Regions from separate parts of the Homo sapiens genome. Here all the other regions are linked to region 1. Evidence: fine-mapped expression QTL. Tissue or cell type: whole blood. Region 1 holds a variant in brackets; each other region holds the start of a gene. Each region is shown on its reference strand, or each on the opposite one.

Evidence for each region. PIP is the estimated chance that this variant, and not a neighbour inherited with it, causes the effect.
Region 2: it holds the start of BATF3, and the variant in region 1 is fine-mapped to the expression of BATF3 in whole blood (TOPMed, PIP above 0.99).
Region 3: it holds the start of SIGLEC12, and the variant in region 1 is fine-mapped to the expression of SIGLEC12 in whole blood (TOPMed, PIP 0.97).
Region 4: CYBB starts here. The variant in region 1 is fine-mapped to the expression of CYBB in whole blood (TOPMed, PIP above 0.99).

What each region holds. Positions count from the first base shown.
Region 1 is chr3:188,415,720-188,420,736 of GRCh38, forward strand. The region is part of intron 4 of LPP (LIM domain containing preferred translocation partner in lipoma); the gene reads left to right. Among named protein-coding and RNA genes, the nearest start is that of LPP-AS1, 150 kb to the right of the region's middle. The variant T/A (reference allele first, on the strand shown) is at 2,276.
Region 2 is chr1:212,697,576-212,702,592 of GRCh38, forward strand. It overlaps BATF3 (basic leucine zipper ATF-like transcription factor 3), which reads right to left and starts at 2,265. Exons shown (of 3, transcript NM_018664.3): 1 at 2,098-2,265. The coding sequence starts at 2,187. RefSeq lists silencers at 1,563-2,012, 2,203-2,282.
Region 3 is chr19:51,499,542-51,503,541 of GRCh38, forward strand. SIGLEC12 (sialic acid binding Ig like lectin 12) reads right to left here and starts at 2,259. Exons shown (of 8, transcript NM_053003.4): 1 at 1,766-2,259; 2 at 379-759; 3 at 1-175. The coding sequence starts at 2,192. RefSeq lists an enhancer at 22-521.
Region 4 is chrX:37,777,956-37,782,972 of GRCh38, forward strand. CYBB (cytochrome b-245 beta chain) reads left to right here and starts at 2,104. Exons shown (of 13, transcript NM_000397.4): 1 at 2,104-2,167; 2 at 4,133-4,228. The coding sequence starts at 2,123. RefSeq lists an enhancer at 2,146-2,195.

The DNA.
Region 1 (5,017 bases):
AGCTCTAGAGATAAAGGACATATTCATGATTGCTAGGGGACAGAAATGGGTGGGTCGGGGGGGGGCAAGTACTGGTCATTCCTACAAAGAGGACGCAGCAAGAGTCTTTGTATGGGTGGAACAGATCTGTACCTCAATTGGAGTGATGATTACATGAATCTATACATGGGATAAAGTTACATAGAACTGTATGCACACACAAATCAATGCAGGTTATAAAATGGTAAAAACTGAGTAACTCCTAGTTAACAATAAGGTAACAATGTCAGTTTGCTGGGTTTTCGAATGTATTACAGCTTTATGAGCATTACCATTTAGGGAACCTGGGTAAAATGTACATGGAAACTCTGTACTATTTTTGCAACTTTCTATGAGTCCATATTTAAAAAAAAATTAATAATAGTAAAATAAAGGAATGCATATAGATATCTTAATGTATTCTTCTCTTACTCAAAGTGCTATCTTACATGCCATCTGAATTGCTTGCATGATACTTTGAAAGATCACTGCTATATGTATCCCTGCCAAAATGTATGGCTTAAACCTGTGGTTTTCAAAGCTGGCCAGTCATCAGAAAGACTTGGAGAACATTTTTCAAAAGAAAAAAATTAAAGCAAGTCCTAGGTCCCATCACAATTTTACAGAATCAAAATATCTGGCCATGGGGCCCAGGAATCTGCATTAAAACAAAGCAAAATAAAAAATAAAACAGAACTTCCCGGGAATTGTGATTGATGCTCAACCAACGTTTGGGAACCACTCATTTATTTCATTAACTTCAGGGACCAGTGCCTTAATCTCCTTTGAACCTTCTCCAAGTCCTGAGAGTGTACTCTTCCTCCCGTAGTTAATGATGGTAGCTTTTGAAGTCTTGAGAGTCTTTATCTTGTGAACATTGTACAGATTCAGAGACCTAGAGCATCTTTCATGTTGCTATTCTTTTCCCTCAGTGCTTTCATTATAGACACCAATCGTTTGCATATGTTGTCCTGGGTCATTTTATTTGGGATCCAAAACCAGAAAATTTCAAACAACAACAAAAAAATGGATTCTTCGAGAATGCCCTAGCCATGGACAAGCTTCTGCATTACAGAGCTCTTGCTATTGTGTTGCTTTGGGTAGCAATGCCTGAAATCTCAGCCAATTTTGGGTCACAGTAGGCCTATGTAAATTATCTAAAAATGGATTCATTATGGACATTATAAAAATAAATCTGACACCTGAGCCTTTGGGCAAATATACCATATAAAGAAATCATACCCTAGAATAACGATTAACCTAAAGAACTTAAAAAAAATCAGTATGATATTTTTATCATCCTTTCTTAAAATTACTGCATTCAGAGAGACCTGATGGCTGAGGACAGCACCTGGGGCAGAGGAGTATAGGTCATTGGGATGTGGCATCCTGAGTCTTCTAGCAGTTTGCTCTTCCAGCACTCTCCCTTATTATATGTTCTTTACATTGTTCTGTATGTCGCTGTCTTCAAACAGAATAGATAAGTCTACTAGTCAAGATAGACATATAACAGGCACCACATGTGCATAAAAATTGCATTATGTAAATTTAGTGCCGTAATATAATATGAAGGATGTCCTCTAGGAGGAACTGGGGAAAGCATCACAGACGAGGACACATCTGATCTGAGTGTTGGAGAATGAGTTAGTTGTTTACCAAGCAGAAAAGGGTGGTGGACAGCATGGCATGCCAAGTAAAGGGAACAGCATGTGCAAAAGCAGAGAATGGCCCCCATCCTGACCCTTGTAATTTTGGCAGCTCTTTGCTGATGTCCTCAGGCAATGCATCTGGGCTCCTGGGAATAGCTTTGCAATGTGAACAGAGTGACTTCACTATGGGTAGACCTAAATGTTCTAGCGTGCTCTGAAACTTACCTCTAGAAATAGCTCCAGGAAGTTAGGTAGCTTCAGAGAGGAAGGACCAAGAAATATGATCTTATACCACAGGCAAGAAGTACTTTCCTGGAGGTACTGGCCAGAAGTACTATTGCTATCTCTCTGCACTTGTCTGTTATATTTTAGAATGAAATGTGCCTGTGCATACAAATGCTAAGGCAAGAAAGAAAAAGCAAAAGGCAATTCTCTTTAAATCTCCTGAAATAATTTCAGGCAGCTTTTTTTACCTAGTCAAACACACACGCTTAAGAATGGAGTTGTAAGCTAACTTAATCATTTTTTGTTTTGTTTTGCTCTCTTACTTGTTCACACGTTGGGGTAATCCTGAGAAAACAGGAAGCAATGAAAGAAGGATTTTATTG[T/A]GAAATGTTCATTACAACTTGTAATTTTAAAATGTGTTTGTATGAGTGTGCACAAATGTGAATAAATTTTAGAGCACTTTCTCACATAATATCTAGTTTAATCACCAGAATATCCTGCAACGTTATTATAGTTCCTACATTATTATGGTTCCTAAAGACAAATGAAAAATCTGTGATTCAGAGACCCAAGGTTAGGCTAATAAATGTAGAAGTCACATTTGACCAAATTTTAGTATCTTCCCTTAAGTATTGGTAATGTACGATAAACACTATTTGGTAATAATGAATTATTACAATTACTAAAACAACTTATCTGGCAGAACAGTATCTTAACTATTTGAAAAATATTGTAGTGGATTTATTAGCTTCCATTTCATCTGAAGTCCACTTTGCTTTACTGCTTACTTTATCTTTCTAGCTACTCTGTAAAAAAGTTATTATCACCCTCAATCTGCCAAGTATAATGTATGTAAAGTGAAATAACTAGCATATTGCAAAGCTGGGAATTGAACCCTTGTCTCCTAAATCCAAGTCTGTAGCTGTTCCTCAGCAGTACACTGTATCTCATGTTAATGCCATTATTACTTGTATTAAATGAAATAATTTTTCCATCATTATTTTCCCGAATTATTACTATCCAGAGCGATTTGAAGGTTAAGGTCATCCAAATAATGTGTGAAAATTGCTTAAAATCAATCTCCTGTGCATGGATGTCTATGATGTATACAAATATAAAACAGCCAAAGTAGTCTCAAGAAGTTATTACCAAGTTTCTCAAATAGTGTCTCAAGGCGACATTATTTGACAAGACCTTTGGAATAACCATTTGGAATTTTCCTTAGTTCAGTTGAATTGTGTCATCTTGCTTAAACTTTTCAGATATCAGGGGTAGTTTTATTGACATTACAATGGAATTAAAATGACATTTTATTTTATTTTTTACCGTTCTATAGAAATGGCATTTTAATTCGTCATTATTTTTATTATTGATCTGTTAATGTTGTAATGACTTGGGTTTTAGTAAGGGCATCCTCTGTAAAAATTACCTCCTGGGAAAGAAATCTCCAAGTTCTATGAGGTCTCCCAGAAATATCACCACTTGAGGTGAGAGTAAAGTGTCATGAATGCCACCCAATGTGATTCCTGGTAGATAAGATTTCACTGTTTTATATCTTGACATCTGCATTAAATTCCGTTCTTTTACTGGGTCCTATTCACTTCCATCTTGTGCCATTGTTACTTAACCAGGCTCTGTAGTGGACAGGAAAAAGTAAAAACACGTCTTAGCCCTTAAACAGTTTATATTTTCATTAGAAATTCAACATATGAAAATGCCCAGTTAACTAACAATATAAAGCTTTACTGTACAGCTTCTATTTGTGAAGTGACTCCATGGCTAACTCTATCAGAAGAAAGAGTTTGCTTGGAGCCAAGGTAGTATTGGAAGGTTACAGAGAAGAAAGACTCAGGGAGGCAGTGGTTAAGCTTGTAGACTCTGGCATCAGATAGATCTGGGTTTCGAGTTTTGATTTTACCTCTTAATTCTCTGGAAACTTGGACTCACCAGGATAAGTGGCAACCTAAGTTCTTTCAGTTTTAAAATAGAGATAGTTATGCACTAGGCGTGGTGGCTCACGCCTGTAATCCCAGCACTTTGGGAGGCCAAGGGTGGATCACCTGAGATCAGGAGTTCAAGACCAGTCTGGCCAACATGGCAAAACCCCGACTTTACTAAAAATACAAAAATTAGCCGGGCGTGGTGGCACACACCTGTAATCCCAGCTACTTGGGAGACTGAGGCAGGCGAATCACTTGAACACAGAAGGTGGAGGTTGCTGTAAGCCACTGCATTCCATTCCAGCCTAGGCGTCAGAGTAAGACTCCATCTCAAATAAATGAATAAATAAAAATAATAAATAAATATATGAATAAATGAAATAGAGATATTTGTATCTTAAAGAGTTGTTTTCAAAGTTAAGTCATGACAAAATAATGACAAAATCAGTGGAAGCTGCAATCATTGTTCTTGCTATTATTATTGAAATGAAAATATGAACATTAGCTCTGAGGGTTCTATCCATAGTTTTTTTTAAAAAATTCTGATTATAAAATTTTAATTATAAAATCCCATATAGCTCATGCTGACCATTTAAAAAATAATCTTAGTTGTATCCTTGTTTCTTTTTGTATTTGCTAATAGAGATTTTAGAATTGGCTTGGTGTATGTTTGTCCTTGCTAGAATTATGATTCCTTTTTTGAATTTGCATTACACCTTTGTTAGAAGTAGAATTACTTTACTTGAACTTTGTCAATGTGGCAAAAAATGATTCATGTTTATATTATCTCTTTGAAAAGTAGTGTTTTTACTATTGAACTATAAGTACAGTTAAAATGTAAATGAACATTTCAGAAAGAAACTATTGATTTTTATTAATTAAAGAAATTAATTTTCCAAAATGTCAGTTGCTACAGAGAGATTTTAGGGATTATTAACTACACAATCTCAGAAAAATTAATTTAATTAGGGATTTTATTTTGGGTTCCATTCGTTTTTGAGATTCATATTTTGGATTAAGCCAGTCTCCTGAAATTGTATTTAAACTTAGTCTGCGTGTATGTCTTTTTTAGGGAAAGCATTCACAACACCATCAGACCCTCGAAGAGATTCTTAACTTACCCATTAAGAAAAGTAACATCTCTGTCTAGGGGTCACCAGTCTCTCAAGCCAGTTATATTGTTGC
Region 2 (5,017 bases), not on the chromosome of region 1:
ATTACACTTACAACTAATTGCAGCCACATAACTCTACCAACACACCAAATGATCTTAAACCCCACTGACAGTGTACTCATTTGAACAATGCTTGGCTGACATTTTGTTTCAGAAGTCAGCAAATTTTTTATGTGTCTTGAAAGCTGTTAGCTATATGTAAGATTTAACCAAATTCAGTCAAATCCCTCAATAGTGATCATGAAACAGGCAGGCGGAAAAATGCACTGACCATGGTAAAAACACTTCAATCAGCTATAGAAAACATGAAAAAGGAGAGCAGTATTTGCTTTCTAGAACCCCATGAGAAGACACCACCAAGCGGGAAAAATACCACACTTACAGAGTTTAAGAGCCAAGAGGTACAAACAAGGAAAACTACTCAGTTATTAATATTCACGGAATGCAAATATTAATAACACAAAAAAGGATATTTTCAGTTATCATTTGATCTCATCTTGTATTCCACATAAGACACACATCTTCCCAAGTTACTGCAGGTAAGAAGTTTCAGATATGCAAGAATATAAAGGCATAAAAAGGAGAGGAATAAATAACATACATAGCAAATAGAAGCTTAAGGGAACAAAGTATGATAATACAGTCTTCTAGAGAGGCAAAGAAGTCTTGATAAACAAAACCAGAACATTACAGGGGAACATGTGGTTAGAAGACAGCTCTTTAGCTTTAGAATCACACAGATCCTAGTTTTGTCTCTTAGTGTCAACATGGTCTTGTGTAAATGGTTTAAATTCTCTAAATTTTCAGTTTTCTCATTTATTGTAAGCATAATTCATTCATTCTTTCAATATGTATTAACTGAGCACCTACCATGTGCCAGACACTGTTCTAGACACTGGGGATACAAGCCCTAAACAAAGGGTCAGTGAACTCTGCAGACTTGGTGCTAACAGCCTAATGCTTAGGATTGGGATGCGATGAAATGAGATTTTGTCCTAAAGCTCCCAGCATACAGTATGCCCTCAAGAAGTTACCTGCCTTTGTTGAAGTTGCTACTTTAAAAAAAAATGTATTCTGCATAGTGCTTCTCATGCCTCTTTGCTCTCTGTAATCAAAAAGTCACTAGCACAAGAAAGCAGCCTGCATACTGCCCTCGGGGAGCTGACTCTAAACTGGACTCATCACCATGATCACACCTGCCAACCCAGCAGAAACATTTAATCAAGACAGAAAGAGGTGAGCGAAAGTTAGAGATAGTATTATGTTATTAACCATATCTGATTCAGTCTCAAAAATCCTGAGAGGTTGATGTTACTATATTCATTTTACAGATGGGGAAATGGACGGTCCGAGAGGTTAAACAAATTGCTCAAGGCTGCTCAGCCTGTGTGTGGCAAAGCCCAGGCCCAAACTCAGATCTCTGTGACACTCCAGCGACACCTGATGACATGGGCCGGGCGCTGAATTGGGAAGGTGGGGAGTAAGGATGAAAAGACCCAGTCTTCGTCGTAAGGCAGGTGGCCAAGACCCAGGCAAAGTTTCCAGACGGCCGTCCCTGTGGCCAACCTGGTCTCCTTCCTGACTGCGCCGCTGTAAACGTTGCTAGGGGACAGCGAACTGGGAAGGGGCAAAGGGTTTCCACCAGCTGGGGGCGGAGTCGGCCCTTTGTGGGTTCCCTCCGCCCAGGCTGACTAGTCCGGCGTTCTCCATTCCCGCGGCAGCACCCCCCCCACCCGGGGGAATCCTGGAGGGGCTACAGGCGCGGGTGGTGGGGTGGCAGTCGCTGGCTGCGCCAGGATGGGGCGGCCCTCAGGGCAGTGCGGAGCCCACGTGCCGGGGAGCACCGGCCATGCCCGGCCCAGCCAGGCGTCGGCGCCCTCGGGCTTCTTCCCCCAGAGGGCGCAGGAGCTGGCTCAGGAGCCATTCCAGGAGCCGCGGACACTGTGCGCACGACAGGGTCCCTGGATCGCCCCCATTCCCCAACATCCCTACGCCCCTACCTCTGCTTGTCTCCGGCCGCACCCGCCACCTCTGCACCTCCGCAGTCACCACCACGGAACTCCAGCACCCACCTCCTCGCCCCCCGCGGCGCGCCGGTCCCCGCACCCCACGGCCCTCCCTGAGCCTCTCGCCCTCTACCTGCTGCTGCGGCTGCGGCTGCGGCTGGTTCCCGGGCGCCGCGACGCTCCTCTGCAGGACGCTGCCGGCGGCCGGGAGCCCTTGCGACATGCCGGGCGCTCCTCTGGCCCGGCCCGCCCCGCCCCGCCCGCGCGCCCTGCCCGTGGGGCTGCCTACGGGCGCTGTCCCGCCGCCGGCATCCTCGTGCCGCACCCACGGCCTCGCGCCGGCCCCGCCCCCTCAGGCTTCCCGCTCTCCCCGCTACTCCACGCGTCGGCCCAGTGTCCCCGCGCGCCAGTCCCGGCAGCCGTCCTTCCCGTCCCACGTCTGCCCCGCCCTCCTTCTCCCACCCCCGCCTCGTTTCCTCCTCTGCCCGCCCTCTCTCCGCACCTCGGGGTCCCAAATCCCACCCCTGCCGCGGCTTTCCGCCGGCGCCCCGCGCTTCGTGGAAGTCACGTGGTGGCTCTGAAACCCCGGAGGGAACGCGAAGCCCACCCACGCGAGGCGACGCCCGGGGGGGTGGGGACCAGGGGGGCGCCATGCAGCCTTTGGGGTCCTTCGGCGGCTGCCGGGGAACTCAGGTTGAGAAACACAGTGGGTGTTTTGGGGTCGGTGTTTTTTCCCGGTCCCATCGCGGCATCTTCCTGCGCCTCAGCCACGCCCTGCGTCCGCCCCCCGGCGCGGGGGTCACAGTCCCGGGGGACTTTCTCCGCGGCGATCAGTCATCCGGGCGCCACTCTCGCTCCTCCAGCGGCCCCGAAGCCGCGGCTCTGGGGTGAAGACGCCGGCTTCACCGAGTCCCACCGCGCACCCCGAGCCACGGGCGCCCCAGGGACTCTGCAGGGAGTGCCTGCCCTTCCCGTCTCGGGTCCGCCGGGCTGTGGGAGGGAACGAGGCGGGGCGGCCCCGAGGGTGAATTCCCGGAGCGGAGGGTGGGCATGGGGAGGATGTCCCGGACAAAAACGGTGACGGGCTTCCCTGAGAGCGAATCTGCCACGTGGGACGTCACTAGTGACAGGTTTGGGGATCTGGACCCGCCATGCCACGGTTAAACGGCCCAGATCATTTTTCTTTTTCAAGATTTATCTGCTCGTGCCAAGCTGGGGACCGGGTTGAGGTAGGGCAAGTCCCTGTCCACCTGCCTGCCAGTCAAAAGATGCGAAGCCAAGACAATTACCCGTGGTCCTAGCGAAGGAAACACTAGCGGCCACAGGCTGTGGTCTGCATGCTGTGAGCACCGGGAAAGATAACCGCGATTCGGGATGGGCGGGTGGGAACCAGACCAGAAGGGCAGAAGTGCCTACCAAGTGTGGTCGCTTGGGTCTTCAGGTTTGTGGGCAGCAGTGGGCATGGGGACAGTCATTTCCGATTCCTTTTTAAGTCTTAAATGAGTGCACGTGCCCCCCGCCAGGATTTAAGACCCACTCTTGCAAAAGCTTTGAGAGAGCTTGAGTGAACTTGGCTGCCTGGAGGCCAGCGGGAAAGCGAGCGGAGATTCTTGTCTGTGTGATCAGAAGCTTCGGCCAACTGAGAGGCGGGGAGGAAGACGGAGGGTGGACGCAGCCCTTTAGAGTTGCAGCGCCACACTCCACAGCAGCAAGGCTGCGCAGCAGAGCCAGCGCTACGCTGGGTTATCTGCCCGGATTAATCTTTTCCTCTCCGTTATTTCATCACTCAGCTTAACTGGTGGTTGCCCCAGGACTATTTTGCATCCCACAAGGTACCCACACAAGGTGCCTAGCATAGCACGCTACATACACTCAACAGGTGCTCAGTATATGTATTGCACTAGGTCAGCTGAAAGCTCTCATTCCTGAAGCACTAAAAGGGCTCTAACGAGCTAGGAAAACATCTGGGTCAAGGGGTTATCATTTTCAGAAGTGATTTCATTCCCCAGTGTTTTTTATGCACAGAAAAGGCAAGGTAGAAACACCTCGGGAACATTCCCGTGCACTCCTACACTTTATTCTGGTCATGCCCACTTTTCTCACTGAACCACATCACATTTTAAGTCCTTTGGGGCTGCTGCTTCCCTGTCTCTCCCCAGGGAGCCTGAAACCATGTCCCAGCACACACGAACTCTTTATATAGGCATAGTCTACTGTCTTGTGTTACGCAAGGGTTTCTTCAAATACATTTAGTCTTGGTTAACTAGGTAGCATTTAGGGCAGAGATCAATTTGATGTAAAGATCATACATCAAAATGAATGGATTAAATAGCTAGATACAGAAATGAAAATCAGAGAGCTAAAGCAGAATTAAATTCTTATTTAAGTCATGGAAGCATAGGCAACATAGTGAGACCCCCAACTCTACCAAAAATTAAAAGAAATCAACTAGCTGAGTGTGGTGGTGCACACCTGTAGTCCCAGCTACTCAGGACGCTGAGGCAGGAGGATCACTTAAGCTCAGGAGTTTGAGGCTGCAATGAGCTATGATTGCACCACTGCACTCCAGCCTCCAGGGCAACAGAGCAAGACCTTATCTCAAATAAATAAAATAAAGTTGTGGAGATAAGATAAGGAAAGGATCTTATAAGAATACATGTAATAGGAGAAATTGACTTGATAAGATCTGAACTATATAAAAGGGCTAAATTGTTTTAGATGACAGTATAACCAGGAATGTAAAACAAACAGATTGGATAAATACAGTGCATATGAGAAAGGGTTAATATACAGCCCACGAAAAAGAAGAAGAAGAATATTGAGACAACCCGCAAAGGTAAATTGCAGAAGGGATATGAAATGGCATTTCCCAGCAGAAGAAATAATCAAGGAAAATAGGTATAGGAAAATATATATTAAAATAAGAACCCTTTTTAAGTTAGCAAAATAAAAAGTAATATCAAATGCTGGGGAGAGTATGGTGAAATTGGTACTCACATGTTTCACTGGCTTCATTGTAAATTGGCACAAACCTGCTGGAAAGCAGTTTTACT
Region 3 (4,000 bases), not on the chromosome of region 1:
CTGAGCATCGAGGAGCGAGTGATAGTGGGGTCCAGGGAGGACACGGAGGCCCCCATCCAGGTGATCGTGGGGGGCGTCCCCTGTTCACAGGCCCAGGGCACAGAGCAGGTCAGGTTCCTGGGGTGGCCAGACTCCAGGGTCCCCGGGATGGAGAAGGTGGGCATGTGAGTCAGGGCTGGTGATGAAAGGGAGACAGGCAAAATGAGGGTGTTGGGGTCTGAAGTGTGGTGCTGAGGAGGCTCAGGCTCTGGTCTTACTCCTCCCCTGAGCCAGATATGCTTCACCTCCAACTCCCTCCCAGGATGGGGGTCCCACCTCAGCCCTACCCTGCGGCCCTCGGGCCTTCCCCTCTGGCTGGTCCTAGAGCCAGAGATTTACCTGTCACATGCACAGAGAGCTTGTCATATATGTAGTTCCATTTCCTGCTTCCTCTCTCCACCTGGAAGTAGTACTTCCCTGAATCCCCCTTCCTGGCATCTCTGATGCTCAGGGAGCAGTTGTTGGTCTGTGGGTCCCCAAGGAGGAGGAATCGACCGTGGGTATCCTCTTGCACTTTTCCACTTGGGGTGTTTGTGGCCACTGGAATATCCCATGGTATATCGGCCCCTTCCTTGAACCAGGATCCATAAACAGGGCTAGAGGCAGTCCAGTTGTAATGGGGGTAAAGGACACTGCAGGGCACAGAGACACACAGACCCTCCTGCACAGTCACCGACTCTGGCACCTCCAGCCTGTATCTTGACAGTAGGTCCTGGGACGCTGTGGAGAAACGAGGGTCAGCCCAGCCCCCACTGTCCCTCTCTTCATTTGCCCATAGCAGGGGCAGCAGCATCTCTGAGGCAGAGGCTTCCTGGGCTCCCTGTGTGAGCAGAGAAGGGGGAGGGAGAGGAGGGGCAGGGCTGTGGGACCCACAGGGGGCTGGAGAGGAGCTGGAGACCTCAGCCCTGCATGGAAGAGAAACTGCAAACCCACATGCTATAGGAACTCATTCCCTCTGCACAGAGTGAAGGAAACCCTAAAGCTCAGAGACCCTAGAGACCCACCCAGGGAGGAGAAGAGACCGTGTCCCGCCTCCTACCTCCGGGCTTCCCTGAAGCACCAGGGCCTGCACCAGACACGTAGGTCCTGCCCTCCCGGCCTCTGGACCATCGTGGAGGTCCCTCCTGTCTTTTGAGCATCTAAATGTGGATCTCCGAGGACCTCGGGGCATGAGAGATGGAGGGGCCGTGTGCTGAGTCTCCCTGTCCAGGCTCAGGTGCCTCTGCTGCCCTTGGTTTGCGCCAGGAAGTGCTTCCTCCCTGGCCTGGCCTGAGAGAGTCACGGGGTTGTGTAGACCTAAGGCTCTCAACTGGGGAGGACTTAACCCCCCAGGACGTTTGACAATGTGTGGAGATAATTGTCTCGCTGCATGGGTGGGGTGGGTGCTTCTGGCATCTGGTGGGGAGAGGCCTGGGATGGTGCTAAACCCCGGCCATGCCTAGGACAGGCCCCAAAACAAGGAGTCATAAGGCCCCACATGCCACAGTGCCAGCGTCAGAGGCAGGATGAGGATGTCAGGCCTGTGGGTCAGGGCTGGTGAGGGGAGGGGCTTGCAGGATCAGGAGGGGCATCCAAGGTGCGGTCCTGGGGAAGCTCAGGCTCTGGTCCAGCTCCTCCCCTGAGTCCATCACCCCCGGCCCCCTCCCAGGACATGTGTCCCGTCTCAGCCGTGCCCTAAAGCCCTCATCACATTTGCCTTTGGCCTCTCTTGGAGCCCGTGCCTTACCTGTCACATTCACAGAGAGCTGGTCATATTTATAATTCCATTTCATATTTCCTCTCTCTACACAAAAGACGTATGTCCCTGCATCACTCTCTCTGGTGTCTCTGATGCTCAGGGTACAATCCTTGTTCTGTGGGTCCCCAAGGAGGTGGAATCGGTCCCGAGTCTCCTCCTGCACTGCTCGAGCTGGGTTGTTTGTGGCCACTGGAATGTTCCGGCTTACATGGTCCCCTGCCCGGAACCAGTAGCCATGAACTGGATCGGAGGCAGTCCAGCCATTTTGGGGGTAGGAGAAGGAGCAAAGCACAGAGACACACAGGCCCTCCTGCACCGTCACGGACTTCTGCATTGTCAGCAGGTAATCCTTCTGTTCCTTAGCCCCCACTCTCCCACAGAGCAGGGGTGGCAGCAGTAGCAGCAGCAGTAGCATGTGTCGGGTTGGAGGTGCCAGGGTTGCTGAGGTAAGTCTGTTCCTCAGGGTTCTTCTCTCAGGAACTGAGAACTCAAGATTTCGAGGAAGCCGCACAGGAAGTTGGGGGTGGGTTCTGAACGGTGACCTCACAGGAGGAACTTCACACACAGACACTGTCAGGGCCGGGTCACCCCTGGAAGATCCACCGTCCACTACCCCGTCCACTCCTGGGGACCCTGAGGCCAGAGAGGATGAAAGACTCACCCAGATTCCAACCCCATGCAGGGCCCACCCCGCCCACTGCCTCCCTCTCAGTGCCCTTCCCCTTGGGTGATATTTTCCATAAGGTGAAAATGAGTCCCATGTGGCCAGACCTATGAAGTACAGGCTGTGGATGTCTCTCTGTAGGTCAGAGGTGACACTAGGATATAAGAGATGGGGGTGCAGGTGGGATGAGCAGGCAACCTCTCCTTCCTCCCTCAGCGGCCGTGAGGTGGAGTTCAACACAGCAGAGCTAGACACTGTCCCCAAAGAGTCACTGTGTAGTGGGGAGACACTGAGGCTCCTGATATCTGAGCTCTCCATGGCAGGAGCTTCAGTGGGGGTACCAGGCAGGGTGTGGTCGCTCTCTCCTATGTTGGGGAATCAGTCTCGGGAGGACTGAGCAGAGAGACACGGGGTCGTGGAGGTGAGGATTCCGTGTGTTGATACACACCAAAGACACAGAGAAGAGCCCAGTTCACAGGAGGCCTGAGAAGCTAAGGCTGTGACTGTTGTACAGTGAGGTCTGGAAGGGAGGAATGTTGGATGGGAAGGGACAGATTTCTAAAGGGGCAGGCGTTTCTCTCTCGGCCATGGCTCTCTGGGTTCAGGATGGGATCCTTCACCACTGCTCTCTCACAAGTCCTCCTTACTCCAGAGCATGAGGGGTCTGCTGGCCCTTTGTTCCTGCAGGCTCTGCTCCCAGGGTTTCAGGTGAACAGGAGACGTGGAGCGAGGACACCAGCCCTGGCGTGTCCACGCTCAATGATGGACAGGATTTCATGGGAGAAGAAATGCACCTGAATTCAGCAGAAGAGTTTTTGAAACTGTATGCTATGTACTGGGAGGAAGGTGGGGAAAATCCTGCAAGATTCGCCCTCCTTAGACCCATGTCAGCTTTTCTTGAAACAATGATTTTTGGGGAAATGTAATACAAGTAAATAAAAGTGCCACCTAAAAAAATGACTCAGTGATTTTCACCAAATTATCACTGTTCAAGAAATAGAACATCACAAGATAATTGCCAAATTTCTCCCATGAGATGAAGAAAGAAATTGCATTCATTTATTCAGCCCTGTGTTTCCCCTTCCTATAGGCCACATGCAGTTCCTCCTGAAGATGCCCCAGCCTCACTTTAATGATAATGGTCTCCTTGCTTTTCTATGTAGTTTTATCATCTGAGTGCACTGCCTTCAATACTATGGCTTTGCATAGGTTTTTCTAAAGACTATTTTTACATAAAAACCACAATCTGTTTTATTTTACTCAGCTCCATGGATCTTCCCATCCCCATGTTGTCCCCAATTGCCCATAACCTGGAGTAGAGTCAGTTGGCTGTGATAATTGAAAAGGAAATGTGCAGGATTGGGGCATGCATAGCTGCTCCTCTCCCTGACACCACTAATTCCTGCATTTGCAGCTTGTATCTCATCCTGCAGACCAATCTGCTCCTGGGCCCCCATCCTTGCCGTGTCACTTTCTTCCCGTAAGGACAGTTGCAGCATCTCAATGGGAAGAAGGGCTCGACCACGGCCCATCTCTTTCCCACAGTCCCCAGTTGGCAA
Region 4 (5,017 bases), not on the chromosome of region 1:
GAGAAATGTATCCTTAGGTGATTTTGTTGTTGTGTGAAAATCATAGAGTGTATTTACATAAACCTGATGGTATAGTCTACTACACGCCTAGGCTACATGGTATAGCCTATGGCTGCTAGGCTACAAACCTTATCGTTTTTTATTGTACTGAATACTGTCAGAGATTCTAACACAATGGTATCTAACCATAGTTAACCATAGAAAATAGACAATAAAAATAAAGTATAAAAGATTAAAAATGGTACACCTGTATAAGGCACTTACCATGAGTAGAGCTTGGAGAACTAGAAGTTACTCTATGTGTCAGTGAGTGAGTGGTGAATGGATAGGAAGGCCTAGAACATTTTTGTACACTCCTATAGATTTTATGAACACTGTACACTTAGGCTATACTAAATATGCAAAACATTTTGTTTTTTCAATAATGAAATAAATTTAGCTTACTGTAACTTTTTATTTATAAACTTTTGCTTTTTTAATTTCTTGACTCTTTTGTAATAACCCTAAGCTTAAAACAAAAAAAATTTTACAGCTGTACAAAAATGTTTTAATATCCATATCTAGAAGCTTTATTCTGTTTTTAAATTTTTTATTTTTATATTTTACCTTTAAAACATTTTTGTTAAAAGCTAAGACACAAACATACACATTAGCCTAGGCCCACACAAAGTCAGGATCATTAATATCACTGTCTTCCACCTCCACATTTTGCCCCACTGGACAGTCTTCAAGGGCACTAACATGCATGAAGCTGTCATCTATGACAGCAATGCATTCTTCTGGAATACCTTCTGAAGGACCTGCCTGAGATTCTTTTACAGTTAACTTTTTTATAAGTAGGAGTATACTCTAAAATAATGATTAAAAGTATAGTCTAGTAAATAAATGAACCAGTAACATAGTCATCTATTTTTACTATCAAGTACTATGTAATGTACATAATTGTATGTGCTATACTTTTACAACTGGCAGCTCAGTAGGTTTGTTTACACCAGCATTGCCACAAACACATGAGTAATGTGTTATGCTACAATGTCACTAGATGGTAGGAATTTTTCAGCACACACACACAAGTATATATATTATATATTATATTATATATTATATATATATGTATATATATATATATATATATAGAGAGAGAGAGAGAGAGAGAGAGAGAGAGAGATGGAGTCTTGCTCTGTCGCCCAGGCTGGGGTGCAATGACACAATCTCGGCTCACTGCAACCTGACTCCCAGGTTCAAGTGATTCTCCTGCCTCAGCCTCCTGAGTAGCTGGGACTACAGGTGCCCACCACCATGCCCAGCTAATTTTTGTATTTTTAGTAGAGACGGGGTTTCACCATGTTGGCCAGATTGGTCCCAAACTCCTGACCTCAAGTGATCCACCCCACTCAGCCTCTCAAAGTGCTGGGATTACAGGCGTGAGCCACCGTGCCTGGCCAACACCATTATAATCTTATGGGACCACTGTCATACATGTGGTTCATCATTGGCCAAAGCATCTGTATTTATATATGTATGTTTCAAATTATATATATATATATATATATATATATATATATATATATGATAGCTATACATGAACATACACACACACATATATAGACATATATAGCACATAAAATTGGCACATATTAAGCATTTTGTAAATATCAACCATTACAATTGTTACTACTTTTCTCAGCAAGGCTATGAATGCTGTTCCAGCCTGTCAAAATCACACCTGTTTAATGTGTTTTACCCAGCACGAAGTCATGTCTAGTTGAGTGGCTTAAAAATTGTGATCAAATAGCTGGTTAGTTAAAAAGTTATTTCACTGTGTAAAATACATCCCTTAAAATGCACTGTTATTTATCTCTTAGTTGTAGAAATTGGTTTCATTTTCCACTATGTTTAATTGTGACTGGATCATTATAGACCCTTTTTTTGTAGTTGTTGAGGTTTAAAGATTTAAGTTTGTTATGGATGCAAGCTTTTCAGTTGACCAATGATTATTAGCCAATTTCTGATAAAAGAAAAGGAAACCGATTGCCCCAGGGCTGCTGTTTTCATTTCCTCATTGGAAGAAGAAGCATAGTATAGAAGAAAGGCAAACACAACACATTCAACCTCTGCCACCATGGGGAACTGGGCTGTGAATGAGGGGCTCTCCATTTTTGTCATTGTAAGTACCAACAAGAGATAAGTTATAAATTCTCTGACTTCTCGGGGTTATCTTGGAACTAAAATAGACCAAAGCTTTTTTGTTCATTTGAGGAATTGTGTTGAAACTGATTTACCATGTGAACCTATATCTATCTGTAAACAGACTGAGTCCATTCTTCCAAATTCCTTAATGGAAAGAACATATCTGGGGGCTCACTTCTAGCTTACTTCTGAATTCCTAGGAGGAATAAATTAGCCAGCATTTCGCAGAAGGAGTAGAAAATATTTCATGCTAATGATCTCTGATTCTGAGTTGTTTAGTAATGTTTACTCAGACGCACATGTCTATGTGTTTATACTACTTTAAAAATGACAAATTGAAATTTTATACCATTTTCTAAATAAAAAATATAAGATTGACTCATGTATGGGAAGTAGGCCTTTATTTCAGTAATTACACTAAATATAATAAAACTTCTCAAATTTATTTTCAAAAACAAGTACCTTCTTTTTTCAGAGATCTAAACTTGAGTTATTTATAAGATTTATAAAAATTCAAAAGAACAGAATTGAAATAAGTCATCTAGATTCATAAATATGTAGTATGTATATTTATATATAATTGTATATATATATAAATCAATATAGTCTGGAGAAACTATGTAAGTAAAGATATAGCTAATTTACAAGTGGACAGAATGATTTCTGTACTTTTTAAAACAAAGAAAATCAACTGTTCTCTTAAAATGGTGTTATCAGCAAAGCAATAATGGACAAATTGGGTAGATAGAAATACGATTTTTAAATAGCCTTTCTAAATAACCAATAGAAGCATTACACAGATGTTAAAAAGTACAATTATGAATGGAATATGAATGGAGCTTTTGTAAAAATTTATCATGAAAAATAATGAGTCTTTGAGTTTTAAATATAGAAAGCAATTAGTGGCACAAATAAAAACAACAAATATTTTGTTATAAAAAATGTTTACGCCAAACCAACATTCTACTGCAACAGAGAATTCTTCCGAGTATTCGAAGCTGTAAACTTAACTTCTTATCACCATTTTTAAGGGCAAATAATTTCTATAGAAAGTAAGTTCAAATTAAACTTTTAGCTCTCGCCACAATTTTTCCCAGGAAATGACCTCCTTCTAAATTATATACTCATGCACTTGAAAGTGAAAACACAGCTTGGAAAGTCAGAGTAAAGAAAGAATGACAAGATCAGGAAATTGGGAAGTTGCTTTAGCACTTTTTTCTTTGTAAAGAGAGAATATTATCAAGTGTCTAGAGCATATAATAGCTTCAAAGCATAGTTGAGAAAAGATCACTATGGAGCTGAAGGTAGAGAACTGGGTAGTGTGACCACTTGATCCAGTCAGTGCTTAGGATAAAATGAACTGTCATGATCTAGAAAGCTGTTTTTGTTGTAAATCCCAAGCCCCTCACTATGCTCAATATTCTCTCCTTGAAGCATTAAGTAAAACTAATCAAGGAAAATGGAAGGCTTGGCATTTTAGCTGATGAGAATTCACTAGCTGGATTACTGTGTGGTAGAGGGAGGTGATTAGCACCTGTGAGAACAGAACGCAGTGTCATACTGGTGGAGGGAAAGCAATAGTAATATGTTCCCTTCCTTTCTCATTTTAAGTGGAGTGGCCTGCTATCAGCTACCTATCCAAGGTTAAGCAAAAGAGAGGGGAAAAAAAGGGAGTGGGGTAATGTAAGACTGATAATTTGGTATACTGGCCAAATCATAAAACAATCATGGGGAACAACACAGGGTGGAGAGGTTTTAATTATAGACAAGTGTAGTGACACTGTTGAGGAAAGAGCTGGCTCTAAGCTGGTTATATCCAGCTTTGTCACTACCTTTGTCAAAGTTGGACTTGGGGAAGTCCTGACCCTTATCTGACTCCAGTCTTGTGTGGAATCTACTGTGGAAATGCGGAAACTTCATGCAATTATTTCTGTTTGTGCAGCTGGTTTGGCTGGGGTTGAACGTCTTCCTCTTTGTCTGGTATTACCGGGTTTATGATATTCCACCTAAGTTCTTTTACACAAGAAAACTTCTTGGGGTAAGTATAAATTCCATCCCATGCAATATTGGCTGGTTCACATTTCTCATCAGACATTCTTGTTCATCTTCCTGTTAGCATTTTAAATACATATTCTGACCAACCCAAACAGTACCATTAGCCTCACTCCCTCCATTGCAACTTCCTGGGCAACAGTCACTTAAAGCCTTCCAGTCTGGGACCAACAAAAGTGGGGCAGAGGGCCCCAGTGGCATCCTTCCCCAACCAAGAACCATGTGCCATTGTTTAGCTTAAAGGAGAAATCTAATACTCACTCTGAAATGGAAGGGCAGGTTGGAGCAATCCATCCAGGAGTGACACATGTGGGACAAGTGGGACTTTCCATATTTTCTAAGTCACCTAATTCCTAGTACTTTTTTGCATGAAGAGCTCTGCTCCTAATCACATGTTATGAAATGATCTTCAGAAAATAAATCTCTCTCTACATATAAAGACTCGAGGAACTTGCTCAAGGGCCACATCTGTTGACTAGGACAGTAGAGTGAAGGCCCTTCAGTTTCCTTGGGTCCTTTAGTATTCTGAGTTTCCTTGAACTGTCAGGCCTCTTGCCTCCAGAAGACATCTGTTACATCATGCTGAAACTATGAATTAATTGCTTAATATTAATTATTATAAGTATTATAAATCATAAATAAATAATTTTAGCATATAATTATGCTAGATCATTATAATTGTTGTTAGCTTATTCACATTGATGCTTTCTCCCGCCAAAATATGCAACTTCTTTAGACATTACAAATATAATAATTATAATGCCAAAGCATTATA